Linked DNA regions of Homo sapiens: all the other regions are linked to region 7. The links come from fine-mapping of genetic effects on gene expression. A gene starts in region 7. Each other region holds a variant in brackets. All regions are shown on one strand. Distances are between the middles of the regions.

The links. PIP is the estimated chance that this variant, and not a neighbour inherited with it, causes the effect.
Region 1: its variant is fine-mapped to the expression of TBC1D7 in whole blood (TOPMed, PIP above 0.99).
Region 2: its variant is fine-mapped to the expression of TBC1D7 in whole blood (TOPMed, PIP above 0.99).
Region 3: its variant is fine-mapped to the expression of TBC1D7 in whole blood (TOPMed, PIP above 0.99).
Region 4: its variant is fine-mapped to the expression of TBC1D7 in whole blood (TOPMed, PIP 0.99).
Region 5: its variant is fine-mapped to the expression of TBC1D7 in whole blood (TOPMed, PIP above 0.99).
Region 6: its variant is fine-mapped to the expression of TBC1D7 in whole blood (INTERVAL, PIP above 0.99).

The regions. Positions count from the first base shown.
Region 1 is chr6:13,264,546-13,268,621 of GRCh38, forward strand. The region is part of intron 10 of PHACTR1 (phosphatase and actin regulator 1); the gene reads left to right. TBC1D7-LOC100130357 (TBC1D7-LOC100130357 readthrough) reads right to left here. Exons shown (of 9, transcript NM_001318809.2): 9 at 1,991-3,290. Among named protein-coding and RNA genes, the nearest start is that of TBC1D7, 62 kb to the right of the region's middle. The variant G/C (reference allele first, on the strand shown) is at 1,944.
Region 2 is chr6:13,379,022-13,383,097 of GRCh38, forward strand. All of the region lies in intron 1 of GFOD1 (Gfo/Idh/MocA-like oxidoreductase domain containing 1), which reads right to left. Among named protein-coding and RNA genes, the nearest start is that of TBC1D7-LOC100130357, 53 kb to the left of the region's middle. The variant G/A (reference allele first, on the strand shown) is at 1,803.
Region 3 is chr6:13,284,532-13,288,607 of GRCh38, forward strand. It overlaps PHACTR1 (phosphatase and actin regulator 1), which reads left to right. Exons shown (of 15, transcript NM_030948.6): 14 at 1,615-1,691; 15 at 2,532-3,306. The coding sequence ends at 2,547. The region is part of intron 8 of TBC1D7-LOC100130357 (TBC1D7-LOC100130357 readthrough); the gene reads right to left. The region is part of intron 3 of LOC100130357 (a long non-coding RNA gene); the gene reads right to left. Among named protein-coding and RNA genes, the nearest start is that of TBC1D7, 42 kb to the right of the region's middle. The variant A/G (reference allele first, on the strand shown) is at 1,754.
Region 4 is chr6:13,293,415-13,297,490 of GRCh38, forward strand. All of the region lies in intron 8 of TBC1D7-LOC100130357 (TBC1D7-LOC100130357 readthrough), which reads right to left. It overlaps LOC100130357 (a long non-coding RNA gene), which reads right to left and starts at 2,172. Exons shown (of 5, transcript NR_160971.1): 1 at 2,072-2,172; 2 at 1,861-1,974; 3 at 1,382-1,484. The variant T/C (reference allele first, on the strand shown) is at 1,856.
Region 5 is chr6:13,305,475-13,309,474 of GRCh38, forward strand. TBC1D7-LOC100130357 (TBC1D7-LOC100130357 readthrough) reads right to left here. Exons shown (of 9, transcript NM_001318809.2): 6 at 2,126-2,271; 7 at 924-1,053. TBC1D7 (TBC1 domain family member 7) reads right to left here. Exons shown (of 8, transcript NM_016495.6): 6 at 2,126-2,271; 7 at 924-1,053. Among named protein-coding and RNA genes, the nearest start is that of TBC1D7, 21 kb to the right of the region's middle. RefSeq lists an enhancer at 1,767-2,966. The variant C/T (reference allele first, on the strand shown) is at 2,118.
Region 6 is chr6:13,132,391-13,136,466 of GRCh38, forward strand. The region is part of intron 5 of PHACTR1 (phosphatase and actin regulator 1); the gene reads left to right. Among named protein-coding and RNA genes, the nearest start is that of TBC1D7, 190 kb to the right of the region's middle. The variant T/TAA (reference allele first, on the strand shown) is at 2,405.
Region 7 is chr6:13,326,491-13,330,559 of GRCh38, forward strand. It overlaps TBC1D7 (TBC1 domain family member 7), which reads right to left and starts at 2,047. Exons shown (of 8, transcript NM_016495.6): 1 at 1,806-2,047; 2 at 297-416. The coding sequence starts at 408. It overlaps TBC1D7-LOC100130357 (TBC1D7-LOC100130357 readthrough), which reads right to left and starts at 2,047. Exons shown (of 9, transcript NM_001318809.2): 1 at 1,966-2,047; 2 at 297-416. The coding sequence starts at 408. It overlaps LOC124901261 (a long non-coding RNA gene), which reads left to right and starts at 2,125. Exons shown (of 2, transcript XR_007059457.1): 1 at 2,125-2,408; 2 at 3,235-3,367. RefSeq lists a silencer at 1,863-2,252 and an enhancer at 1,886-2,392.

The DNA.
Region 1 (4,076 bases), 62 kb before region 7:
CCCATCTCTACTAAAAATACAAAAATTAGCTGGTGTGGTGGCATGTGCCTGTAATCCCAGCTACTCGGGAGGCTGAGGCAGGAGAATCACTTGAACCTGGGAGGCAGAGGTTGCAGTGAGCCGAGTTTGCACCACTGCACTCCAGCCTGGGCCACAGAGTGAGCCCTCATCTGAGAAAAAAATACGATACAATTTGGCCAGGTGTGGTAGCTTATAACAGTAATCCCAGCACTTTGGGAGGCCAAGGCAGGAGGACAGCTTGAACCCAGGAGTTTGAGACTGGCCTGGGCAACACAGAAAGACCTCGTCTCTACCAAAAATTAAAAATTAGCTAGGTATGGTGGTGCATGCCTATAGTCCCAGCTGCTCAGGAGGCTGAGGTGAGAGGATTACTTGAGTCCGAGAGGTTGAGGCTGCAGTGAGCCAAGGTGGTGCCACTGCACTCCAGCTTGGGTGACCAGAGTGAGGCCCCATCTCTGAAAAAAAAAAAATAATAAAATAAAATAAATAAAATAAAATTCCACCACAGCCTCCTTCACTTCTACTTCTCTCACCCGCTTCAAAGCCAGGCTTCGTGGCTAAGTCCTCCAGCTTCGGTGCATCCATTTTTCCACCCCTGTCCTCAGCCCTCTCCAATCTGGCTTCTCTTCCTGCCACGCCACTGAAGGGGCTCTAGGTGTTGTCAGTAACAGCCTCCATGGTGCTAAACCCAGTGGGCATTTTTTTCAGGCCTCATCTAACCTTACAGCAGCTCTCAGAACTCTTTGTGGGCCATACCTATCATCTTACTGTTAACGAAAAGATTGACATGCAGGTCAAAGGCACTTATTTGGGAAGCAAAAATGGCAGCTGGGGTACACCGGATCAGGGCAGCCCTGAAGAGTGCCCTATAAGGCAGGCTGCAGGAGAGAATTTTTAAAATAGAGGATTGTCATAAAAAGTTATTTTCGGAAGTAGTTCATTGGCCAGGCAGAAATCCTAAATCACAAAGCCGTTGTGATTGGTTAGTTAATGAGAGTACTCTCAGCTGAGGTGTTGAAGGCCAGCAGATGCTGACTTCAGTTGTTTGACCGAGTCTATTGGAACATCCCCTGGGTTTGACCTTCAGCAGGTGTGAGTGCGATCCTCTTGCAACCTTCGACTCCACTTCAGAAAGCCTTAGCATTAGTTACTATATTTTCTTTCCCATTACGTTGCTTCCATGATATGACATTTTAGTCCTCATCCTACCTCCAAGAACTCCCCTCCCCAGAATCCATGGCAGGGTCATCCTCCTTAGTCCATGCATTAAATACTGGAATTCGGCAAAGTTCCATCCTAAGCCCTCGCCTCTTCCCATTCTCTACTCTCTCCATACTCATGGCTTCAAATATTGTCTATATTGCAGACTAGTCTCAGATTTCTATCACTGGCCTAGTCCTCTCCTCTCCACTGAGCTAAATGTATCCTGCTGCCTACATGACAGCTTCATTCATATGTCTCAGGAGCATTCTGATGTAACAGATCCAAATTCAAATTCATGGTTTTCTTCCACTCTTCCTTCACAAACACGCTGGTTCTCTTGCAGTGTGCCTGCCTCAGTGAACAGCATTCCCATCCATCTAGTTGCATGAGTTAGAAAACCTAAGGAGATATCCTGTACACCTGCTTCTTCCTGTCCATTCACATATGCTACCTGACTTCCTAAGAGCTTGCACATCACTGCCACAGCCTCGCCCAAGCCTCCACCATTTCTTACCAGGTGTGCCAAGCCTCCCAAAGCCTCTGCTCGGGTTTCCTCTTGCCTCCCCCAATCCCTTCTCCATATAATAACCAGCATGATCTCTTTCCACTGTAAGTCTGATCATTTCATTCACTCCTCCCCTCTCACACCCTAAAACTTAAACTCTTCAACGGCTTCACATTGCTCCTAGAAAAAGAAGATCTAAGTCCCGGAAGCATCT[G/C]TATTAGGCCATTCCCACACTGCTGTGAAGAAATACCTGAGACTGGGTAGTTTATAACGAAAAGAGGTTTAATTGGCTCACAGTTCTGCAGGCTGCACAGGAAGCATGATGCTGGCATCTGCCTCTGGTGAGGCCTCAGGAAGCTTCCAATCATGGTGGAAAACAGAGGGAAAGCAAGGAGTCTCACATTGGAGGAGCAGGAGCAAGAGGGAAGGGTGCTACACACTTTTAAACAACCAGATCTCGCGAGAATGCACTCAACTCACTAGAACAGCACCAAGTGGTTGGTACTAAACCGTTCATGAAAAACTACCCCCATGATCCAATCATGTCCCACCAGGCTCCACCTCCAACACTGGGGACTACAATTCAACATGTGATTGGCAGGGACACAGATCCAAATCACACCCACGGCATCTGGCCCCTGCCCTCCTTCCCACCAATCTTCTCTCCTTACTCTCTGCCCAGAAGGAGCATCCTTCTTCCATCCCTGAGCTCTGGGCACAGTGTCACTTCCTCCTGGAAGCCTTTCCTGACCTCCTGATTTGGTCAGATCCAGAGATCCCTGCACCAAGTGCCTCACCATGGAAGCCCTTACTCCAGCTACATTTTGCACTCATTTCTGTGACTGTTTGATTAATGGCTACCCCCATCCTCTTCCAGTCTTCTCTGTTCCAGAAGGGCAGGGACTGGTTTTGCTCATCACTGTACTCTGGTACCTAATGTAGAACCTGACACAGCACTGGCACTAATAAGTAACTTGCTAAATGAATGAATGGGTTTACATTTGAATGTAACTGAGTCTGTGGCACCCATTTCTAAAACAGGTCTTGATAGGAATGAGATAGAGCAAGAGTGATAACATAATTCTAGGAACTCGAGAGGGGAGGACTCCAGGGAATAGAGTCAATGCAGAACCACAGACACTTTATCTTCTTCACAGTTTTGCCTTGTGCCCAGTGAGCCCCACTTCCATGTGGCTGCTGAATGGTTTTTTTCTGACTCACCTCTTGCTGGCCAACTGAGATGCTGCAAGAATGTACAGTGCCTTCTACATGGGCAGTGAAAGTCTAAGTCACGCCCAACTTGCTTGTTGTTTTGAGGATATTTTATTACATGCCAGTCCTTGGAAACTGTTGATCCAGTTTTACCTTGCACATTGTAATCACAGATGTGCACCTCTAGGCTGTGAGCCGCTTAAGAATGTGTCTGGCCCTTCATGTGGCCCGTGGTTCATGTTGGGTAGATTAGCAGATGAAAGACTTAGGAAAACAAAAATTGGAATTCTTATCATTTGATCTCAGCCAGCGTCTCAAACTCAGAGGCCCTCGGGGGTCCAGGAATGATCTGAAAAAAAAAAAAAAAAAAAAAAAAAAAAAAAAAAGCAGGACAGATGTGAGCGTGCTCACCTGTATTACATAAGTGAGGCCTGGGGAGAGGGCTAATTTGATCACACACTCTGTCTAAAGGCATTCAGGCTCAAAAAAAGTATAACCAGCTGGGCTCAGTGGCTCACACCTGTAATCTCAGCACTCTGGGAGGCCGAGGTGGGTGGATCACCTGAGGTCAGGAGTTTGAGACTAGCCTGGCCAACGTGGTGAAACCGCATGTCTACTAAAAATACAAAAATTAGCTGGGCGTGGTGGCACACACCTGTAATCCCAGCTACTCGGGAAGCTGAGGCAGGAGAATCGCTTGAACCTGGGAGGTGGAGGTTGCAGTGAGCTGAGATTGTGCCACTGCACTCCAGCGTGGGTGACAGGGCAAGACTCTGTCTCAAAAAAGAGAAAAAAGTGTAACCTCTGAGCATGCCAAAGAGAACTGATAGAGTCAAATCCAGTGCACCAGGCATCAGTTTGCAACCTCTGACTAGTAAAGTATCATAGTTATGGCAGACAAAATATTGGCCACCCTTCCACAAGATGTCCACATCCTCATCCCCAGATCTATGAATATGTAACGTCCCAGGGCAAAGGAGACTTTGCAACTGGAATTCAGTTAAAAATCTTAAGATAAAGATTAAATGAACTAACATATGTACAGTGCTTGGAACCATACCCTTACATTATAGGCATTAAATCAGCCTTAGCTTATTAAACTAGTATTTATGATTTGCAGAGAAAAGAGCATAGG
Region 2 (4,076 bases), 53 kb after region 7:
CCACCCACAGCAGGTGGTAAACATGATTAACGTGCTACTGCCCAGAGCACTTTCACCTGCACCAGCTCCAATGGTAGACGCAGTCTGTGCCAAGGCCCAGGGAGTGGTGGGAAGATGGTAATCGTAAAAACTGACAAGTAACCTACAGTGCAATAATTGAGTGTTTGTGTGTTTGGGGGAGGAAAGGTAGTAGAGATGTGTGATTTTGGGGAGCTGCCCAGCCCCTGAATCTCCTTGCTGTGATTGGGAAATTTCCCACCTGAGAGTCTTGGTGGGTGGTACAGCCTCCCCCCATAGAAGGCACGCCAGCTGTTTGCTTTCCCAGAAGCCTTTGCAGCAAAGCCATGGGCACACAGCCAGGCTTGGCCAACCAGGGACACCACTCTGGCCTGGTACATGAGAATGGAGGAAGGTGGAGATCTGTGCTGGCAGTGGGGGTAGCAGCATCTAGTTTCTAGGGCTGTGATGCCCGTGATGCAATGACGGCTTCTATCACCCAGCACCAGCACCACTGCAAGCAACCGACTCTGTCTACACCTGATGGGTTCTCTGGTGTGATCTGGACTGTGGTTGCAGCTGCCAAGCCTTTCTTTGTTCCTTGTGTTTCTCAAGCTGACTTCCCCAGCCTCTCATACATTTCCGTGAGGAACTAAGGTCCTTTCAAATAATTCCCTTCTGCTAAAATCAGCCAGGTAGTTTCTGTTGTTGGCAATTTAAATGCCTCTTGAGTACAACAGGTTTCCAAGCTTTCTGGACCCCTTTCTGAAAAGATTGATTTGGACATGGAGGAAGCTCTGAGTGCCTATTAGTAAAGCAGCCCAAGATCTAGTGTGATTTGTCAGACAGGGAAGTGAAATGAGGGTCAGGGGACGTGGATTGAAATTCTCACCTGGCATTTGCAAGCCATGTGGCCCAAAGAAGCTTAGTTCACTTACCTGTAAAACTGGAATAATAACACCTTCTTCAACAGGCTGCTTTGAGGATGAAAGGACAGATGGGCACTGTCCTGACCCATGAAAAGTGCTCATAAATGTCTGCTCAAGTCAATAACAGACCCAAATAAAAACTACACAGGTCAGCTCTTAGAGCTGCAAGAATTCAAAACAAGTTGGTGGCAGGGAGGTAAGTGCGTGGCAGCACAGGGGATGGGAAAGATACAGACTCAAAAGCTACGTGGGTTCTAGATCTGGCTTTGCCACTCATTCCATTCCGTCTGTGAAACAGAGCTGATATCTGGTCCTGCCAGCTTTGTTAAGACTGCTGACAGTATGAAATGAATAGTATATGGGAAAGTTTGTGGAAGGAATAGGCCTACTGCAAGAAGAAAGTTATTACTGAGATGTAGTTACAAATAAAACCAAAGAATACACTTACTGTAGGGCTCTCTTCCAGGGATCCCTGGGCAGATGCTCTTATGAATGAAAACAAAATGCAAAACTGCAGCCCCCAGATCTGCCCACGTGAATATCATGATGGGGTGCTGGCGGGAGCAGCTTAGCGAATGTCAAGTTCAATTTATGACATACACACACCCCTGGCGGAGACTTGTGTTGGCATTGCTGGCTGGCTGGGGTGGCCACAGGGAGTCAAGGCTGGAAAAATGGAGGGTAGAGGTTGCCTGAGCACTTAGCTACACACATTATTAACTGCTCCCAGGAAATAAGGAAGGCTTAGCTAGCTATGCAAGGCTGTAGATTAAAACTCCTCTTTCCAAATCACAAAACCTCACTTTTGGTTGCAAGCTGATATTTTCATAGGTCTATGCTACCATCCTCACTAGGCTGAGGATCGCTGGGAAATTC[G/A]TCTTATCAACAGAGCTCAGAAACCTCAGAAATGGGCAAGGTGAGACACAGAAGTGGGGAGTGTAAGGGAATGTTTACAAAGCATCTGACCCCAGATTGCCCAGGCTTCCTCCTGCAGCCCAGAAGCCAGCAGATTTCTTCCCTCCTACAACCTCTTATCTCCAAGGGACAGTGCTTAATGTTTCACCTAGGGACCCAATGACAACCACTGAGCTGAATGAGATGGGGGTTTCAGCAAGCCCAGCTATCCAAGGCTGAAAGGCTGAAATACTGCTCACTCCTGGGGGTGGAGAGCAGTCATGCTGCCCCTGGTGCTGGCTGGGCTGAGTCCTGGTGCTTTGTTTTCTTTTGCAACAATATGCAAAAATAATGCAGACTGTTTTTGAAGACAGAAACCCAGTTGGCAAGAACTCCCAGAAAACTGGGTGCACCTGAATCTGTGTTGGCCCCAGCAACACTCATTCAAAATCTGAAAAGCTGGAAGCCCACAGCCTGCTTGGTGATGTCAGGTGGCAGCAGCCCCATTTTACAGACAAGGAAATGGGCTAGGAGTTAAGTTTTCATATTTTCTCTTCCACCTAATACAGTGAGGCCCTAGAAGAGGCCAGGATACAGGTAATAAAGGCTCCAGCCCCTGAGAAAAGGGTCCCAGCGGAGCTGAAAAGGTTCCCTTCTACATCCTGGGGATGCTTCCATATGGAAAGGACTCACTGATTCCCAGGAAAGGGTTCTGCATGGACACAGTGCTGGAACAAGTCTGGCCTGGGGCTCCTGGACAATCAGCCACTCATCACATTTGCACAGGACTTGGGTGGAGCATGTGGGAGATGTCTAGATGTCTCAGACACTGCAATGCCCTAAAGGTGTGTCAGATGCAGAGAACAAGGACAGAGGCCCAAGTGTGGCTTGCTTTGTGCTCCAGTGGGAAGGGGTGTGGACAGGTGGTTTATCCCCTCCCCTCCTCCTCCCCCAAGCCCTCAGCCACCCTCCTCTCATGAACACCTCCTCCTGAGACAGGTCACCATGCTCAATCACACTGAAGTCTAAAAGTGCCCCCTGGAGTAAGAGAAATAAAACACACACGCGCGCGCGCACACACACACACACACACACACACACACACACACACAAACTTGCTGACTGAAGCAGTAACTACCACCAAGTACCTGCGAAGTGCTTTGTAGGAATCATCTCACTGAATCCTCCCAAAACCTGAAGAGGTTATTGTCCTTCCAATTTCACACACAAAGCCAAACCCTCAAGAGTCAAGGCCCAAGTTCACATCCTAGTAAGTGGTTGAGCCAGGATCCAAACCCCCATAATCTGGCTCTGTGTATCTGTGCTTATCTTGATTATAATATATTACAATATTGAATGCAATCTGGCAGCCAGTCAAATATGATGGTGAAGAAATCATGTTGTGATATGGTCTGGCTGTGTCCCCACCCAAATCTCATCTTGAACTGTAGCTCTCATAATTCCCAGGTATCATGGGAGGGACCCAGTGGGAGGTAATTGAATCATGGGGGGGGGGGTTCTTTTCCATGCTGTTCTCATGATAATGTACAAATCTCATGAGATCTGATGGTTTTATAAAGAGAAGTTCCCCTGCACTCACTCTCTTGCCTGCCACCATGTAAGATGTGACTTTGCTTCTCCTTCACCTTCCACCGTGATTGTGAGGCCTCCCCAGACATGTGATACTGTAAGTCAATAAACCTCTTTCCTTTATAAATTACTCAGTCTCAGGTATGTCTTTATTAGCAGTGTGAGAACAGACTAATACAAGTTGGAATTGTGGATTTTCATGTAACCATTTAACCCCACAGACTTTTAAAAAAAAATTTTATTTTAAGTTCCAGGGTACATGTGCAGAATGTGCAGGTTTGTTACATAGGTAAATGTGTGTCATGGTGGTTTGCTGAGCCTATCAACTCATCGCCTAGGTATTAAGCCCAGCATGCATTAGCTATTTTTCCTAATGCTCTCCCTCCCCCAACCCTACTCCCCAACAGGCCCCAGTGTGTGTTGTTCCCCTTCCTGTGTCCATGTGTTCTCATTGTTCAGCTCCCACTTATAAGTGAAAACATGCAGTGTTTGGTTTTCTGTTCCTGTGTTAGTTTGCTGAGGATAATGGCTTCCAGCTCCATCCATGTCCCTGCAAAGGACATGATCTCATTCCTTTTTATGGCTACATAGTATTCGAAGGTGTATATGTACCACATTTTCTTTATCTAGTTTATCACTGATGGGTATTTGGGTTGATTCCATGTC
Region 3 (4,076 bases), 42 kb before region 7:
AAAAAAAAAAAAATATATATATATATATATATATATATAGATACACGTATATATATATATATATACTGGAATAATGATTCTGCCCAATGTGTAGGTAACGATAGAAACTATGGAGTGTGTCAGGGGCCTTCTGCTCAACAGTCCTGCCTTCACTGTCCGTTTCAGGGACCCAGGGTTTTCTTATATGATACAGCAGGAAGTCATTTATGGCCCAGGCTGGCTACATTATCACCAACCCTGGATCCAGGAGGTGCAGGAAACATGTATGCAGGCACATTGCTGCACTTGGCTGGGACGGAAGCAGCAAGAGGCAGATAGACTTCCAGAGACGACCTCGCCTGTGGCGGGTCAACCCACAGACACCATGTGTGGAAGACTGTGCCCTCCTCTGTAAACACAGCATTCACATCTTCTCTGCAAGGGAATTTGTGGGAGCAACCCAGGAACTGGCATTGCCATGCCCCTGACAGACAAACCCAGCTCCCCAGGAGTGTGTCATCTAAATACGAAGAGGAAGGGGCTTTCACTCTTGTCCTCTCCTGTCCACACTCTCTCTGCGGTATGCTTGCAAGGATAAGGATATTAGCAAGTGTGCAAGAAAACCACAGACATCTCTACTTGCACCCTCATAGAGTTCTGAGTAGCTCTTAGGCCGAAAACATATCCAGTTTCTCAATGGCTGTTGGGGACAGAAGACAGGAAGCATGGGGTGACCCCTGCCCCCACCCCCAAAGCTGCTACCCAGGCACTTAAACCTAAGCCAGCCTTCTTTTCCTGGGGAGGGCCATTCTGATCCTACAGGAAGACTTTTCTCTCCTCAAACTCCTGGGGCCTTGATATTCCCATCAAAGCAAGTATCGGCCATAGACAGAGCTATGCAAGAAGGCACACGTTTGCAATTTCCACCCTTGAGGAAGGAGTGAGGTTGTCTCTGGCCCCAGCTGCCTTCTTTACCAGCCCCTCCTCCTCCCCTGCTCTCTCATGGCCTCTCTTTGCTGTCTGATTCCAGGCCCTGTGTCTTCAGTGGCAGTATTATAAGGATGGGGTGATTCGGGATCATCTCAGAACATGTGAGGTTATTCAAAATGTATCTCACATGGTGAAATACATCACTGAAGAGTCAGGGAAGTTGTAAAAGAGCAAAAACAAACTGTTGGTAGGGAGCTGGCCATCACCTGTCCCCCTAATTTGGTTGGAGAATTTGATCCACGCCTTCTGGAAGTCTCCACCTCGAGGCATCACTGTGCCTGTGCTGAGCTTTGTTTATTTATGGAAGATGAGAGGTTGACATTGAATGTGTTCTTGGGCCCCCAGGAGTGTGGGGTAGGTGTACACCACCACTGATGCCTCAATGCCACAGCTCTATGAAAAGAGGAAGAAAAACACACTTTGGGCAATAGCCTGTCATCATTTGCAACTTAGATTTAGGGAAGGAGGGGAATCTTTGTTTTAAAGGACATCTCAGGTGATTTTTCTTCCTCCCAATGAAAGAATCCATCTTAAACTTGTTTGTCTTTGTTGAAGAAGAAAAATATGTTGTTAGGAATGAACTGAAAGGGGAGTTTTTTTCTGTCTCTCTCCCATTGCACATTGATGGGCTTCTGTTGATTCCAGGCTGCCATCCGAAAGGAGCTCAATGAATTCAAAAGCACTGAGATGGAAGTTCATGAATTGAGTAGACACTTAACAAGGTTAGTATTAAGGGTTTTTTTTTTCCTTTTTTTCCCTCAAGTTGCAATATTTATCTCCAAAT[A/G]AAGCTCTCCCACTTGTGGGACATGAGTGGGTTGGAGGGTGCCATGAGAGGGAAGATAGTAGGAAGGCAGGCATGCGGTTCCACTTTAGGTTACTGAAACGAGGAAGTGGAACACAGATGGCCCGGGCTAAAACCAACTTTCTGCAAAGTCTGAGTTTCACTCATTTAAACTAAAGGTCTGATAAGCACCAGACTACCAACGACCCCAAGGTGGGTTTTTGTGAAAACTTAGGTCAAGGAGAAAAGATTGTTGCCAATTTGCAACCAGTCAGCAGAGGCCAAACCTGAACAAAATACCACATCCACACGGGACTTCCAAAGTGGACCACTTCTGTTATTCCCTGACATTCTCCCTGACAGTCCAGCATCATGATGATATTTGGGAAAACCGAGGCATGGAGTGATTAAGAGGATTATATAAGGTTGCATTGCTAGTTAGCAACAGAGCCATTGATTTAATTCTGACTTTCTTTTGGGGGGAACATTTAGAGAAATAGGATATAGCAAGTATTTAGTCTAGAGACTCAGAGACACAGATTGGGTTCTGCACCTTGCTGCTGGATCCAGGCTGATGGCAGGAGGTGGAGGCCACCAGGGCTGCCCCAGATGAAACTTTCAAAGCCAGGTGTGTGTTCAGTGGTACTCCTGTGGGGATGACGGTGGGAAGCTCGCACCTCCCTCTCACGGTCAAGAACCTCCCTGAAGATGGGAGATTGGACTGTTGAATCCTGCACCTTTGGCAGCCCCTTGGTCTTGATGTAATTGTTTGTTTCCTTAGGTTTCACCGACCTTAACAGTCGAATTCCTCTTGAGTGCTATGCTGTCTTCAAAACATAAATTTATAAGAACCATAAGTGCTGGTATTTATTCACTTCCCCATTACGATGTAAATCTTCTGAACTGCCTTTTTTTTAAAAAGAAGAAAAATCAAGGAAACACAATCAGGATTTTATGTGTGAAAACGCAAAAGTGATGGCTCGGCGGTCCGAGCTGCTGGTCCCACTTCTGACACCAAAATGCATCCCAACCCCCGGCAGTGCCAAGGGCACCAGCAGGGCCCTGACTGAAGACTGTCTGGCAGGTGGAACGGTCCTTGTCCTCTCCAGCCAGGCCCAGCAGGCACTACCTTCATGAAGTCTCCAGCAAACCTCTTCCTCACAAGTGTCTGTCATCTGAGTCCAAAGAAAGCTGAAGGGGTGGGTTTGTTTTGGGGGTACTGTGCAAAGCTAATGATCTGGTTGGACTTCTACACTTGGCCAAATGTACTGGCTCCAGACATGACATTTGGTTTGGGGGCCCTTTGAAGTTGATGCCAAGAAGGAGTGAACACTTCTCAGTTGCCCCTGGCTTTTCCCTCCTTTCAGCCACCACCCACACAATGAACAAAAGGGAAGGGCCCATTTCTGGGGGAGTCTGGCTGCCTCTTGGCTACGAAGGCTGGCACTGAGCACCCATCCTGCTCCCTCTGCCTGAGCTGAGCTGCCTTTCAGGAAGCTCTGGTTTAGAAGGGGAAAGATGTCATATGCTCAGTTCAAATAATCAACCCAACTGTGTCCAGAGTGTCCAGTGTCATGAGTGACCCACGCACACACACAGCCATTGCTAAGGTACTCCTGTGCTGTTTATAAGTCTGAGTGGGAGGACCCTATTGAATCCTGTGGGGTCAGAAACTGCTTGGCTGACATTTATTTTCTCTGTGCGCCTTGAAGCTGATTATATGGCTTGGGAGTTCTTAGCTTCTGTGTATAGGACCAGTGCATGCAGGCCAGAAACCACTCCTGTAGGACTGGCTTTCCAGCCACTGAGGGACTTGGAACCACTCCATGGCCTTCTCTTTTTTTTTTTTTTTTTTTTTTTTTTTTTTTTTTTTGCACTGAAGAGTTTCTGTGAAGGAGCCCCAGAGTTGGGCATGTGCCAGAATCAGGCCAACACCAGCCACACCTGTCCACAGTGCCCCTTCCTGCTCCAGTTGATCCAGAGAGCTCCTCCCTCTACCCTCATGATGCCAGGGAGCGTGACTGTGGGTGTGTCTCTGACTGGGACACCCAGGATAGGGTGTGCGATGAGGCCAGGACCCTCCTAAACCCTAACAGCATCCTAACGAGGCCCATTGCAGCTTTCGATTTCCTTCATAACAGAGCTCGCAGGCCCTCAGTTGCAGAGCTCTCTCACCTTCTGGAGTGACTCCATCGTTACTCCAGTCTTTCTAGGTGGTGGAACTCTCCACCACACATGCCATTTAGAAAGACGCCAGCTTGGCCTTTCCAAAAAGTTAACCAGTCGTCTCCCCACCACAAACCCTGTGGGAGCAGGTTACTCTTAG
Region 4 (4,076 bases), 33 kb before region 7:
AACATCTCAGAATAAACTACTATATATTTTATCCATGTAACAAAAAGTCACTTGTGAGGCCGGACACAGTGGCTCACACCTGTAATCCCAACACTTTGGGAGGCCGAGGCAGGTGGCTCACCTGAGGTCAGGAGTTCGAGACCAGCTTCGCCAACATGGTGAAACCCCATCTCTACTAAAAATAGAAAAAATTAGCTGTGTGTGGTGGTGGGTGCCTGTAATCCCAGCTACTTGGGAGGCTGAGGCAGGAGAATCACTTGAACCCGGGAGGGAGAGGTTACAGTGAGCTGAGATCGTGCCACTGCACTCCAGCCTGGGCAACAAGAGCAAAACTCTGTCTCCAAAAAATAATAAAAAGCCACTTGTACCCCAAAAGCTATTGAAACATAAATAAATAATAAAATAAAATACAGATATACTAATTTTTGAAAAAGGTTCTCCCACCTGGATGACGGCAGCCATGATCTTTCTGCCTGTGGCCTCAGCATCCAGTCCTGCCATGAGAGTCATGTCTCCCAACTCAGATGGGCTCACCCCACCCTCCCTCTTGGTACCTGCCTCCACTGTCTTACCCATCAAGCCCCACTCTGCAGTGTGGCATCCGTAGTGACAGTGTGGCCCTTGCTCACTTCCGCCAGCCTCACCTCCTGTCCCCTGCTACATCACTCTGCTCAGGCTTCCCAAGCAGACCCTTCTGGTGCGTGTGACCTGGGAGTCCTGTGAGGGATGCTATTGATGTGGCCATGTTGTGGTGACCACCTCAGGGACAATCAGGGTTTAACAAGGGCCCTCGGGCACTGAGCAACTAAGCTTTCCTGAAAGGAGTCCAAGAGAGGTCTCATGTAGGCAACCTTGGAACTCAATGAGAAGCATACAAAGAAAAAAAAAGTATGAACAAATAGCTGTCTCTTCTGACACCTGGCAGGTGGCGGCCCTGATTTCTAACTCTGGCTACCTGGTCACTTGATCCCTACCAACAGCACCACTAACAGCTCCCACACAGTAAACACTTACCGTACCCCAGGCACTCTGTTAGGCCATCTTCATGCACCATTTTCTTTAACCCTTACGACACCTTGGTCACCGATGAGGAAACTCAGGTCCCCAAACAACAACGTGGGCAAAGTCACACAGATGGTAAGTGGCGGAGGGGCTTCCAAACCCAGGTCTGCCTGACTCTAAGGCAATGCCCTTAACCTCCCTGCTACGCTGACGTGTCGTGGCTTTCCCTCTACCTTCTTGAGTTCACACTTCCTCAGCATCCATCCAGTTATCCCATTTGCCTGTCTTGAGTGATTACATAGTTTTCTGACACTGAGGATCACAGACGGAAAGATCATGGACTGCCTCCAAGCCCCGGCTTCCAGCTCCTCCCTCTCACCTCTCATGCACAACTTTGTCTGTGATTAAGCTGAGTCTCCCGCTTCTCCACTCCGTGGGGACCTCCCACAAGCATTTGACAGTCAGCCAACATTTATGCCTTCCTGCAAGGGAAGCAGAAGTCACGAATGAGGCACTTGTACAGTGTGGGTCCTACCTAGAGCTGTTGCAAAGGCAGGAAGAGAAGGGCATGCTACCTAATGAGAGAGAAGAACACCAGACACTTCATCGTGTGTGAGCGTCCAGTCCCTTACCTAGAGGCTATTTTCTGGGGGGGAAAAGGGTTCTGCTCCTAATCAAATAATGCTCTCCACATTTCATAATAGGGAGCCATGATCATCCACTATTTCCATGGGCAACACTGCAGAGGAAGGCAAAGGGCTCTCATTAATTAAACTAATGAATTCATCTGCAGGAGACAGGAAGAGTAAACCACGGAAACAGAATTGACTAATTCTTCTTCCGTTAAGATGCA[T/C]CTACCCTGAGCCAGAATTCCAGAACTGGTTCCCCTCCTCATCCATGATGAAGACGCTGCGGCTCATGTGGTCACAAAGGCTTGGTGTTTCCTATGTGGAGATACCATTGCTGTTCTACCTTTAATCAACAAAACAAAACAAAACAAAAACGAGAAAGAGAAATGGTAGAGGGAGGGAGGAAAATGCTGTCTGTTCCTTAATCACCAATCACCAACCTGGAGTGGTCACTGACACCTTGTCCAGTGTGGCAGGGGGGTCCCTGGGGTCCATGGTCCTGGGGTCCATTCAGAGCCCCCACCCAGAAGAGGACAAGCCAGTCTTCAGCTACACAGGTAAAAAAACACTTCACACATGGATTGAACTTCTTATCTCAGACAGTCCTGACCAGGGACGGCATCAGAGTAAAGGCTTTGGTCTCACGCAGCAACCCTGTGGCCAGTCCCCGCAGTGTGGCAGGCCTGCCACTGTGCGACCGAGGCCGTCATGCATGAAGCACATCTGGGGCTTTATGGCTCAACACCTGAGCCTCCTGGAAGGCCTTGGCCGCCTCACTGAAGCCCCAGCGTACCGGCTCTGCAAGGCCCTGGGGTTAAAATAGCAAAAATGCCATCTGGCAAGAGGCTGGCTTTGTTCAGACTGTGTGCTGCGTTGTCGCTGGGGTGGTGGGGACATTTTCCAAGCCACCATTAGAATATGAGCTGTCACCTGGGCGAGCCCCACTCCCCCATGCCCCCAGCCCGCTCGTCAGCATCCACGCAATCATGGCAGGAGCCCCTGTGGCAGCTGAGCCACCTTGGGTTTTCCTCAATTCCATCTCACTGACTTGGTGATGACAGCCCCAAAGCAGGCAGGACAAATCCCCTCTTTCTTCCTAGAAAAGTACCTGAAATAACACGCTCATTGTTAGACTCCAGGAGTTGGTGCTGAGGAAGGGTCCTTGGGGCTGGGACACGGAGAACAGCCACCGGTCACTGTAGACCCTTTTGTCCTGGCTGCCTTTCCCCTCTATTGGCACATGTTCCTTTTCCATCAAAAATTTAGTTACAATTATTTTTTTAAAATAAGAAGACCAGAAAGAACACACAGGGCTGACTGCCTTTTGTAGGACAAAACTCGAACAGGGAAATTTAACTTGCGTGTAACATGCACACCCAGACGACCTTATTTCAATCATACCCAATTTTAAAATCCAGGAACCGGCCACAGTAAGGAAAGGCAGGCATGTTTCAGGCTGTCCAGCAGCTGGGCAGAAAAACGGAGACCCACTGGGCCAAACAGTGAGAGGCTCCAATTGAGCCATCCTAGTTCAGGTCTCCCTAGTGACCCCCCTCTGTGCGGGGAGGTAAGTGCGTCTCTTGATATTTTTAGTTCACTGTAAAGACATGGTTTTTGCCCTCCAGGAATCAGCTAGCTATGCATGAGCGGAAACCCTGCAGGTGCCGAACGTAACTGATTGGAGTGGGGAGGAGGGGAAGGACAAAGAGTGACAGCTTCAGGTTTGGAGAGTAGTTGAGTGATATTAGAAGCAAAAAGCATCTCTGATTTGGACAGCAGAGGTGTGCACAGTTCTGCTGTGGTTTCAATCTTACTATAGGCCCCAGTCAACAGGACAGCACAAATGCTCTTTTTTTGACCGGACATTCGGCTGGCTCAGAGCAAGTAGCGGGGTAGAGTCACTTAGATTTCAGCAGCAAAGCTGTGCGGGGAGGCAAGATGCTGCCTGGGCTGCCTCCCCGGCCTCAGCATCATGCCTAGGTGGAGGAAGACGCCAAGGCAGGTTTCTTGAGCCCAGTGGAAAGCTGCTTGTGCTGCCCCCAGCTCCCTCCCAACAAAACCAAAGGCCATTCATGCTAAAAGGGTCACTTAGTCCAAACCTTCTGGTCACAACAGAGGAAGGTGCTCTGCTGCCCTCAGCACACCAAGGGGGGACACCCCTAAAGAAAGCACTAGAAGGTGGGGTGCAGTGGCTCATGCCTGTAATCTCAGCATTTTGGGAGGCCGAGGTGGGTGAATCTCTTGAACCCAGGAGTTCGAGACCAGCCTGGGCAACATGACGAAACCCCATCTCTACAAAAAATGCAAAAAACTAGCTGGGCATGTGTCTGTAGTCCCAGCTACCAGCTACCGGGGAAGCTGAGGTGGGAGGATCACCTGAGCCCAGGAGCTCGAGGCTGCAGTGAGCTGTGATTACACCATTGCACTCCAGCCTGGGTGACACAG
Region 5 (4,000 bases), 21 kb before region 7:
CTGACTTCACAGAGCTGTTCACAGTAGGACATGAGGTAACCCATGGAAAATACTTAGCACAGGCTTCGCACTGCTAGCCACCTCTGGTTATAATGATGATTATTCATTTATTCAACGCATATTGACTCAGTACTTTATTATAATTTACCAGGCCATTTTTCAAATGTTAATACTATTTTAAAAATGAATAGATTTTGGATTCTGTGAAAATCATTCAGGCATAAGTCTCTTTAATCCTACTTCTTGCCTGGTAAAGGGTATTCCAAGATACATAGCGAGGGAAAAGTTAATTTCATTACCATTGCCTTTTTCAGCAATATACTAGGTTAATACTGTATATTAATAAACCCAACTGGGACTACACCAGAGACAGTAACAGAAATGAAATGGCTTACAAAATCCTCCAAAATACAGAACCCCTTTTGAACTGACAAAAATTACTCATTGTAAAATGACAGATCCCACCTATTCCTTTTCCTGACATGCCTGCTGATAGTCACATGGAGGATGAGACTCTGGTTCTAAGTGGACACATTCACGAGATGGTCTCAGACCATCATTTCCCAAAGACAGGATGCAAACTAACCCTCAGGCCAACTTTAGGCCAAACTTTTTCAGGGAAAAGTGTTTCTTATAATGTAAAAATACACTGTATGATTTCTCTGAAATAATCTAATGTAACAGGAAAATCTCACTTGCTAAAGTGACTTCATTTCTAGATTCAAAATCAAATCAAATTATTATTTCTCTTAAATAATTTCCCTAAAATAATCATTATTATAATTATTCTCTGAAACATTCTAAGGTATTATTTCTCTAAAATCATGTAATTATTTCTCTGAAATAATCTAATGTAACAGGAAAATCTGACTTGCTAAGGTAACTTCATTTCCAGATTCAAAATCAAATCAAAGCACACTTACATTTTCCAGAAACTTTGTTATCTTCTCTGCACTGTTCAGTGCCATAACTTTTATTTTAAAGGTTAATAAAATTTCGACAGCTACAAAAACTAGGATCTTACAGGATCCACTCACAACTTTATCCCAAACCCTACAAAAATAAGGAGATATAATCAAATTATATGAGTTTCAGAATTATGTTTAGCCTAGACATCTCAAATTACAAAATAAAATCAAATTGCTCCAATTTTATGTAAAAGCTTCAAAGAACAACTTTTATGAAATAATCACCAAAACAACAACAAAATACAGAAGCCATTTGAAATCTATTCTAGATACAATCAGCACTAGAAGGAGAAAGGAAAGTTTACTAAAAATTACTGCTCCACTAGGAATCTACCAAAATCATATTCCCTCATGTTGTGAACCTGACATTTCTGAGGAAGAAAAAGAAAATCCTAAACTAATGGTTTATATTCTGCTAATATGCCATAATGCTAATATAATTATAGCCTACTAAGGGACAACAAAAGATGTATATGAAATGGGATAAATTCAATTTCATTGCCAGTGATTCTGGGGACAGACTCCTTAAACTTCTCCAAGGGCGTAAGGAGCCAGTTACTGATCTATAACCACTCTAAAATAATAATTCTGATCATTCCTGTAACTCCTAAAAGTTGGTATTCTACTTCATACACTTAGTTACATATTATCTTATAATGTTCTCTGTGTATTGCACTGTTCAGTGCCATAACTTATTTTAAGAGTTACTGTTCTACTACATCACAAAGTCTTAATGGGTGGCACCTGGACTCCGAAATACCCAGACATGTCTGAAACTGACTGGAAGAACTTAGTCAAATCTTTGACTGCTTTCAGCTTCTTTAAAGATATCATGATGAAACTAACACTAAGATTTCTACTGGAGGAAGATTTGTCACATTTCTGGAAAAAAGGGGCTGACGCTTATATAAACTCATGGAGACCATTTGAGGTGTGACTGCTTCACAGCATCTAACGCACTGAGGGCCCTTAATTTTTCTAATTGTATATTCAAGAATAAGCAGAATCATGTGCTGTTACGGTAGCTGCTGGAGGACTGAGCTTCAAATTACTGTATTGTTCTAAAGCAAATTTATAATCTGAGGGATGACCACATGAAAGGCCAGAACTCTGCTCTAACGCCAAGCCTTCAATATGTCTTCGAAAGAC[C/T]TACTTGCCTCTGTAAACTGGATTCAGGCAAACATCCCGCAAAGCACCTCTTGAACCAGAGATCATAAGGAAGTTTGGGCGCCGCGGAACACATCCTCAGATGAGTCAGCAGTCTGCCATCTTCCAGATTCAAGTATTGTTCAAACGCTTTTGGCTAAAGATTAAGCAAGAACAGAGATTATTCATTTTCTGTGTCATAACATCATCTGATATTATAGTCTCTGATGAAAAAAAAGTACATGCTGAATTCAAGGAAGTATTAGAAAACAAAACTTCAGAATTATCCAAGTCACTTGTGACACAGCAGTTTCCTAGGTCAGCCCTAACTAAAGTAACAAACCATCCAGGACTGAGGAGTTTCCCAGGACACAGGGCTCTTTCAGTGCTAAAACTGAGGCAGTCCCAGGCAAAATGGAATGGTTGGTCACCCTAATACTAACTTCACTAGCCAGATTCAACAGCCTAAGGCAAAAGTCCAAAGCAAAATTCAGTTGTTCTGAGGAGCTAAGGAAGGCCCATTATATTACTGGCTGGTCTAGAGCAGCAGATTATATACTAAGGAAAAAAGGGGGAAAGAGGAAAGGTAAAACCAAAGAAATAGAGTGGGATTAGAGTGGGGAGAGGGCATTAGGAAGAGTAAGACAAAAAGTGATGGTGATGAGAAGGGGCTGACCAGTCACTGACCATACATACACTGCCCTGGATTGAGCACCACTGTGCACCAGTGCCAAGCAGGCTCACACAACAGGGATGTCCAGAGGGTGAACTCTGTATTCAACATAAATGTGCACAAGAATTTCTTAGAATTCAAGGGATAACTCAGAGGGAACAAAGCACCTGGATTCCACTTGGTAGCCTCTCTCATGAGGTCAGGTGGCAGCCAACACTAGAAGACTGGAGAGCTAATAAAGCCAGCTCCCCAAACCTGGCCAAATCCATCTTGCATTGGCTGCTATATTTAGGCTGGCTGCTATATTTAGGGTCCACTGGCTGAGAATGGGCTCTAAGAGTCAAATCCTAAAGTCCACACTCACTATCTGCAGGAGTACAACCAGGGCCCGCATCACTTAAGCAAATGTAATGTTTATTTTACTCAATATCTATACCTCTCTGCTTCTGTTAAAGAGGAGATTCATCACCTTTACAATGTCCACTATAGTCAGAGACTGTGCTACACACAATGAATGGAGTGAAAGGTAAGAGAAAATCCCTGCCTTCAAGGAGCTTACAGCTTGAGACATACTAGTAAAGAGGTAACTACAATACACTGTAACGCTGTGATGCTATGATGGGAACAAGCACAAGATGTTGGGTACATCCAGGAGAAAATCCTAACCTGGGCTGTAGGAGGCAGAAGCAGTTTCTCAGGAGAGGTGACATTTGAGCTGACCTCTGAAGAACAGACAGGAGTTAGCCAGGCAAAGAGGGGCCCACATCATAATATCTGGTCCAGCTTTCCCCTTTCTGTTTCAGGATATCTCTTCTTCCTGTTTATCCAACCTCCCTATACTGCTCAACGGTTCCTAGAATTTCTCAATAACACTGCAGACAACTTCCCAAACAAGGAAATTTGGTTGGTTTTGCAAAGGGGATATATGCACTTTTTTCCTATTGACTTGGTTGAAAACACACACACAGAGTTATATATTATGTCTCAGAGCAAAGAAAATTTCATCCAAAAGTCAGTACAAATAATAAACAAGATGGAGATGTGTGAACATTTTAAAACTATGTATTGTCTTTTTCCTTTATCAGACAATAAGCTCACGGGGGGAAGCTACTGTATCTGTTTTGTTCACTGCTGGTTCTTCAGTACCTAGCACATCACTTGGCATGGTAAGCACTCAATATATAACTGTTGAGTGAGCAAATCAATACTGTGA
Region 6 (4,076 bases), 190 kb before region 7:
CTAGAGACTGTGCCCTAGTTAGATTGCATGTTCTGCAGACACCCGTGCTCTCCCACTGTCCTCCATGTCTTGCCCGCAGCAGATGCTTACTAAGTGTCTATTCACGATGTCATGGTTTGTGACATAGTGATGGTGATTCCTATTTTTAGAGAGACCACTGAGATGTTGCAGGCTTGGTTCCAGACCACTGAAATAAAGTGAGTATTTCAGTAAAGCAAGTCACACACATGTTGGTGTTTCTCAGTGCATGTAACAGTTATGTTTATGCTACACTGTAGCCATTAAGCATCATGTCCAAAAAACAATGTACATACCTTAATTTAAAAATACCGTATTGCTAAAAAAAAAAAAAAAGTGAATGATCATCGGAGGCTTCAGCAAGTCATAATCTTCTTGCTGATGGAGGGCCTTGATTCTATGTTGATGATTACTGACTGATCAGGGTTGCTAAAGGTTGGGGCGGCTGTGGCAATTTCTTGAAATAAGACAACAATGGAGCTTGTAGCATTGATTGACCCTTCCTTTCATGAACGATTTTTTGGCACTATGTGATGCTGTTTGATAGCATTTTACCCACAATAGAACTTCCTTCAAAATTGGAGTCAGTCCTCTCAAACCCTGCTGCTGCTTTCTCAACTAAGTTAATATAATATTCTCAATCCTTTTTGGTCATTTTAAGAATGTTCACAGCATCTTTATCAGAAGTAGACTCCCATCTCAAGAAACTGCTTTCTTTGCTCCCCCGTAAGAAATCCTAGATGGCATCTTCCAATAGAAGGTTATTTCGTCTCCATTGAAAATCTATTTGGCCTCCCCCTCCCCCTCCCCCTCCCCCTCCCCCTCTCCCTCTCCCTTTCCCTCTCCCTCTCCCCACAGTCTCCCTCTCCCTCTTCCTCTCCCCACAGTCTCCCTCTCCCTCTCCCTCTCTCTCCACGGTCTCCCTCTGATGCCAAACGGAGGCCGGACTGTAATGCCGCCATCTCGGCTCACTGCACCCTCCCTGTCTGATTCTCCTGCCTCAGCCTGCCGAGTCCCTGGGATTGCAGGCGCGCGCCGCCACACCTGACTGGTTTTCGTATTTTTTTTGGTGGAGACGGGGTTTCGCCGTGTTGGCCGGGCTGGTCTCCAGCTCCTAACCGCAAGTGATCTGCTAGCCTCGGCCTCCCGAGGTGCCGGGATTGCAGACGGAGTCTCGCTCACTCAGTGCTCAATGTTGCCCAGGCTGGAGTGCAGTGGCGTGATCTCGGCTCGCTACAACTTCCACCTCCCAGCCGCCTGCCTTGGCCTCCCAAAGTGCCGAGATTGCAGCCTCTGCCTGGCTGCCACCCCGTCTGGGAAGTGAGGAGCGTCTCTGCCTGGCCGCCCATCGTCTGGGATGTGAGGAGCCCCTCTGCCCGGCCGCCCAGTCTGGGAAGTGAGGAGCGTCTCTGCCCAGCCGCCATCCCATCTAGGAAGTGAGGAGCGCCTCTTCCCGGCCGCCATCCCGTCTAGGAAGTGAGGAGTGTCTCTGCCCGGCCGCCCATCGTCTGAGATGTGGGGAGCGCCTCTGCCCCGCCACCCCGTCTATGATGTGAGGAGCGCCTCTGCCCGGCCGCGACTCCGTCTGGGAACTGAAGAGTGTCTCTGCCCGACCACCACCCCATCTGGTAGGTGAGGAGTGTCTCTGCCCTGCCGCCCCGTCTGAGAAGTGAGGAGCCCCTCCGCCCGGCAGCCGCCCTGTCTGGGAAGTGAGGAGCGTCTCCGCCTGGCAGCCGCCCCCTCCAGGAGGTGGGGGGCAGCCCCCGCCCGGCCAGCCACCCCGTCCCGGAGGGAGGTAGGGGGCAGCCCCCGCCCCGCCAGCCGCCCTGTCCGGGAGGGAGGTGGGGGGCGCCTCTGCCCGGCCGCCACCCCGTCTGGGAAGTGTACCCAGCAGCTCATTGAGAAGGGTCCATGATGACGATGGCGGTTTTGTCGAGTGGAAGGTGGGGAAGTGTGGGGAAAGGAAAGAGAAATCAGATTGTTGCTGTGTCTGTGTAGAAAGAAGTAGACATGGGAGACTCCATTTTGTTCTGTACTAAGAAAAATTCTTCTGCCTTGGGATGCTGTTAATCTATAACCTTACCCCCAACCCCTTGCTCTCTGAAACATGTGCTGTGTCCACTCAGGGTTAAGTGGATTAAGGGCGGTGCAAGTTGTGCTTTGTTAAACAGATGCTTGAAGGCAGCATGCTCCTTAAGAGTCATCACCACTCCCTAATCTCAAGTACCCAGGGGCACAAACACTGGGGAAGGCCGCAGGGTCCTCTGCATAGGAAAACCAGAGACCCTTGTTCACATGTTTATCTGCTGACCTTCCCTCCACTATTGTCCTATGACCCTGCCAAATCCCCCTCTCCGAGAAACACCCAAGAATGATCAATAAATAC[T/TAA]AAAAAAAAAAAAAAAAAAAAAAAAAAATTATCACAGTAATTCCATGAGGCAGGGGACTCTACGTCCATTTCAGGGGCTGATAAACTGAGATATAGAGTACTTAGGTAACCTACCCGAGTACACACAGAGCCAGAGCGTAAACCCCTTCTCGCTATTTCCAGAGTCAGGCTCTTCGCCACTTCACCATCCTGCATGTCAGGAAAATGAAATATGAAGAAAATTGCCAATTCTTCCATTGTTTTACTAGAAGATAACTGAGCCACTGACTGAGGCTCTCCTGTGCCCACTAGCTCACTGCTCTGACTGCGTTTTATTGGAAATTTCAGCTAACTCTCACCACCTCCCACTAAACCGTTTTCCTGAGGGCAGAAATCCATCTTCCAGCTGTGAATCAGGATTTGCCACAAGAAACCCCTGCCTGCCTCCTAACACCTGCCATTCATTAGACACTGAATCCGGTAGGGCAGTCCTGGGATCTGAAGGTCTTTAGATCGCCAGGGCCACGTTTCTGGGAGGCTGGTGTATTTGGAACCGCCCTGTCATTCTGGGAGCCCTGTGCGTCCCCAGCTGCCCTGCGGAGTCGCTGTTAGACATTGTACACCTGCCCTGCACCCCGGATGCAGACTCCGTAATTCTTCAGGTCAGCCCCAGTTCATGCAACTGACTTTTCTCAATCAAAGGCATTTGCCAAGTGTTCAAGGATTATTACAGCGATTTATTACACTGAGAAGACTTTTCATCTGGATACATTTGCAAGTCAAAGAAAACCGTTTCTTAGCCCACAGGTCTTAATCACTTTGTTAATTTTAAAGCAGCTGTGACCTTAAAATTCAGTGCTATCAGTAAAGACAATATATAGAGACAAAGACAGACAGAGATAAAGACAGAAAGAGACTAATGTGGAAAACACATTTTAATTTTTTTAATTAAAACGTATTTTAGGCCAGGTACGGTGGCTCATGCCTATAATCTCAGCACTTTGGGAGGCTGAGGGAAGGGGGTATGGCTTGAGCCCAGAAGTTCAAGACCAGCCTGGGCAATGCATTTCTCTAGAGACCCATCTCTAGGGGAAAAAATAAAAATAAAAAATAAATAAAAATGTATTTGAAATAGAAAAAAAAAGAGAAAATGTCCATAAGCAAATAGTGGAGGAAAAAAAAGTCACCCTGTTCAGAAACAACTACCTTTAGTGTTTTAATGTATACCCTTCCAGATATTTTTGTCTGCACATGTATTTATATAAAAGTGAGATTATAGCTGCCACTTTTAACCTGCATATTATTATACCATTCTTCCAGCTTTCCATGCTTCTTGTCATTATTCTCACTGTACTTTACTGGAATTTTCCATCATGTTTTTTGACCCAAAAGTATTCTATAAAATGAACGTATCCTAAAAAAAAAAAAGAAAATCTATTTGGTGTAGCCACCTCAATGCTCTTAGCTAGGTCTTCTGAATAACTTGCTGCAGCTTCTCCATCAGCACTTGCAGCTTCACCTTTCACTTTTATGTTATGGAGACAGCTTCTTTCCTTAAAACTCATGAATCAAACTCTGCTGGTTTTAGACTTTTCTTCCACAGCTTCCTCACCTCTCTCAGCCTTCATAGAATTGAAGAGAGTTAGGCTTTGCTCCGGATCAGTCTTTGGCTTAAGGGAATATTGTGGCTGGG
Region 7 (4,069 bases):
AGAGTTATCGCAAATTTACCCAGAAGCAAATTTACCTAGATAATACATGAAAACATATGGGTTCAATAAAAGAAAAAAATACTACTGACTTTCTTAAGAAACCTTTCAAAAACTTCTGACGCTCAGTGAAATATAAATTTGAAAAATCTTTTCTCAAAATACACCATTCTGCTTCACCACATCACTAAAAAATACAGCAAGTAACCAATGCTTCTGGATGTCTTTTAAGAAAATATTTACTTCAGAACATGTGGAGTGATTGAGAACCAATGAGATTAATTTTTAAAAGTACTCACCCAGACGGTCATCTTTTAGGAGAATTTCTAATGATTTCTTTTCTTCAACTCCACGAAACCCCACTTTCTCATAATATACTGAACGAAAGTTTCTCTGAGAGTCCTCAGTCATATTTCATTCTTGGAGGAGACACAGAAAGACAGAAAGGGAGAGAAAGACGAAGGGGAAAAGTGAGTCTAGAAACAAAGAGTCAAGAATTAGAATAATTTTCAATGATGTTCTCCACCTTTTCAATATGATGTACCCTTGCATAGGACCCAATATTAAATTTTTCCTTTAACTCAGTTCTGCAACTATCTCACCTATGCATCTTGGCTAAAAACCAAGATATAAGTTAAAAGTTCTCTGAGCTGATAAAATAGATGGCACAAGGTTTATGCACTAGGTTTCCCACTATACCTATGAGTGCCTAGCACAATAGAACATTCTGTAGCTATTATAAATGCGCAAAGAAAAAAAATAAGTGAAATGGAAGCCAGGCAAGATACGTCAAGCAAATTATACTCAAACAGTATACACTATGATTTCATTTTTTGTTTTTTACAAATTTCATGTATTTTAAAACTTAACACTCTATTCCAAAATGTTAGCAATGGTTATCTTTAGATAGTAGGATTCTAGATGATTTTAATTTCCTTTCTTTTGCTTAGCTACTTTTTTTTAAATGGGCATTTTGTAAAATGAAAAATTAAGTTATATAAAAGTAAAAAGCCACGAGTTCCTCACTTATCTTTCTTTTAAACACAATTCTATTAAGTGTAGCTATCGAAATTCAAAACCCACAACAAATAAATCGCATTAAATTATAACTAGAAGAGGGTAAAGAATGTAGCCAATTGACAGTGATCCCAAAGTCAGAGTTGAAGACGGAAAAACGATTTAAAATCTACCGCAAGAACTCAAAAAGTTCAGTGGTCTCAAGTTCCTTCACAGTAACCTTCATAATACTGGCGGTAATTCATCCAAAAAAAGACCAAGTTAGATTTGGCGTTTCAAGAACAGAAAAGATCTGATGCATTTCCCAAAAAGCACTGCACTGCCTCACCCAAATGCTTCCAGCGTCTGTGCACAAAAGAGTAAATCTTTAGGTTTAAAAACCCTGCGACGTCCCCAGTGAGCAGGGGAGGGCTTCCTTCCTTATTGAAAAGATATCCTCTGAACCGATTCAGTCACAGGAAAGATTAGGATTCGTTTAGAAAATGAAATGCTAAAGGGCTCTGAGCTTTCGGGAGCAGATGTCTTAAAAATAAAAAAGTCAGCAGCATAAAACGCGTAATGAGTGTGGGGATTTATTTTTTTAAAGCATCCAAACAGCTGCATGACGATTTGGTCGGTCCCTGTTGTCTAAGGACACCCATTCTTAGATTGCACTACAATGACAAAGGCGTCCTCTAGGAGGAAATGCTGCAAATAATATCTCCTGCCCATGCGCGTCCACCTGATGGGAAAAGTAAAAACACCCTGGTCCAAGACCCCAGGTCCCATTCTCTCTATGATGGATGCTTCACCTCTAGTAGTGCAAACACACCCGGGTTGAGACTAAGTGGTCCGGGAGAAGCAGAGGAAGCCGTGCCCTGTGCGCTGACCGACCGCCGGGCAGGCGGGCACCGTTGGGGCCCAGGGCCAGGAGGGACGAGTCCTGCGGGAAGGAGGGAGGCGGCGGGGTACCTGGGACACCCGCGCGCGCCCAGACGGCCCGGGAGACAAAACTCAGCGCCGCTGCCGCTGCCGCTGCCGCCGCCGCCGGACGTGACATCAACTCCAGGTCGCCGGGCGGGCGCCGGGCGGGCGCATGCGCAGAGGGCGCGGGCAGGAAGCTCCACCCTCACTCCAGGAAGCTCTGGCTTCGTTTGTGAAACCCGACGGGATGAAGGGCTAGGCTCGCCTCCAGAGTAGTGTAGTTTCTCCCGCCGTGGGCACCCGGCCCCTTGCTACCCCGCAAAATCTCGCGACCATTTACTCTGGCCATCCGAAGGCGCGTGCCTGGGTTGCACTCCCGTGTCCGGCCCTCGAGGTTCTTGCCTAGGGAAGACCCGAGCCCTAGGGCCGTACTTAAGCTGCCTGCGTGCAGGACCCGGGTTTTGCTTTTGCTAATTTCCTCCCCACCCCAGGTATGTGGGAATAGATGAAGACCATCCGAATGAGAAGAAAAAAGGCAGGCAGAGGAGTGCAAGTCTGATTTAGAGCAGGCAGGCTCCCTGGGTTGGTTATTGTAGGTAACTGACTGGTTTTCTGGGCAGGTTGCTGCAGGTTGTGGATTGGAGGTCTATTTTTATATTAGATTTGGCCATTGTCTTAGTATATTCAGCCTCTCAGGTAAAACACTATAACATAGGAGAAAAATGAACGTGTTTTTTTTTTAAAAAAAGATGTGCTAAATGCAAGCTCCTAATTTGTTATTAGTAGGTCTAACAGAACAGAGTTACTCTTTAAAGTAGCTACTAACACTTACAAATGCTTTCTATTTCTGTGCTTGCCTCCCTGGTCCTCGGGCTGGCTGAGCAGCAGTGCCCAAGTAGGTTTTTAAACCGCCAGGGTTTGAGAGAAATCCCCAATGATGGGTATCGTCCCTTTGAAAGTTCAAATCTCTACCAAATAAGCCACACGGATGCCAAGCTTTGAAGGAAACTTAGGACTATCAACAGTGCAGAAGTCCAGTTATAGTGCAGACAAATGTGTGTATAATGGCTAGACAGAACTTAAAAATGAAGAAACGTGTGGTGGTTGAACTCAAACACTGATGCCCCTCCCCACTCCCTTACCACCACCATCTTTAGTTCCTCAGTACTGGGGTACTAAACCTTCCTTGGGTAGTGTTCACATGAGTAAGCAGAGTTCTTCAAGTTACCTTACACAAGTTCCATTTACTTCATCTAAACCTTGGGCCGGTCACTAACTTTTATAATTGCCTTTTCTTGTCTTTAAAATCATCACCAGGGCTGGGCACTTACTGTGTGCAGGCGCTGTTCTATGGACTCAGGATACATCAGCTACCGAAGCAAAGATCCCTAACCTTGTGAAACTGACATTCTGGTGGGAGGACAGATCCAATAAAAACTAAAATAAATAAGTCAATGATGTAGTGTGTTAAAAAGTGATCGGTGCTGGCTGGGCGCCGTGGCTCATGCCTATGATCCCAACACTTTGGGAAGCCGAGGCAGGCGGATCACCTGAGGTCAGGAGTTCGAGACCAGCCTGGCCAACATGGTGAAACCCTGTCTCTAGTAAAAATACAAAATTAGCTGGGTGTGATGGCACACACCTGTAATCCCAGCTACTCTGGAGGCTGAGGCAGGAGAATCGCTTGAACCCGGAAGGCAGAGGTTGCAGTGAGCTGAGATGGTGCCGCCGCACTCCAGCCTGGGCAACGAGAGAAATTCCATTTCAAAAAATATTAATAATAAAATAAAATCATCACCAATGGTGATTATATAGAAGGTGGGAAGGGTTAAATGAGAAAGTATGTAAAGTGCTTGGCATGGTGCCTGGCATGTGGCACAGTAGGGATATATGTGAATTGGCTGTGTCAAGATCAATTAAAAATGCAAAGATGAGTCTCTAAATCATTTTATTTGGGAAAACAGAATTGCAGTTCAGGGCATACACACAGACTGGGGTGGTCTTCAGAACAACAAAGAGATGGTTGGAGGTTTCATTAGAGAAATGTTATGTATTACCTTGAAAGATAGCTCATTGACCCTAAGCAAAGTTTTTAGGAACAGGCAAGCTCTAATTTGTGAGAGAAGGTGGTAAGTAAAACTAGTCTTAGAGT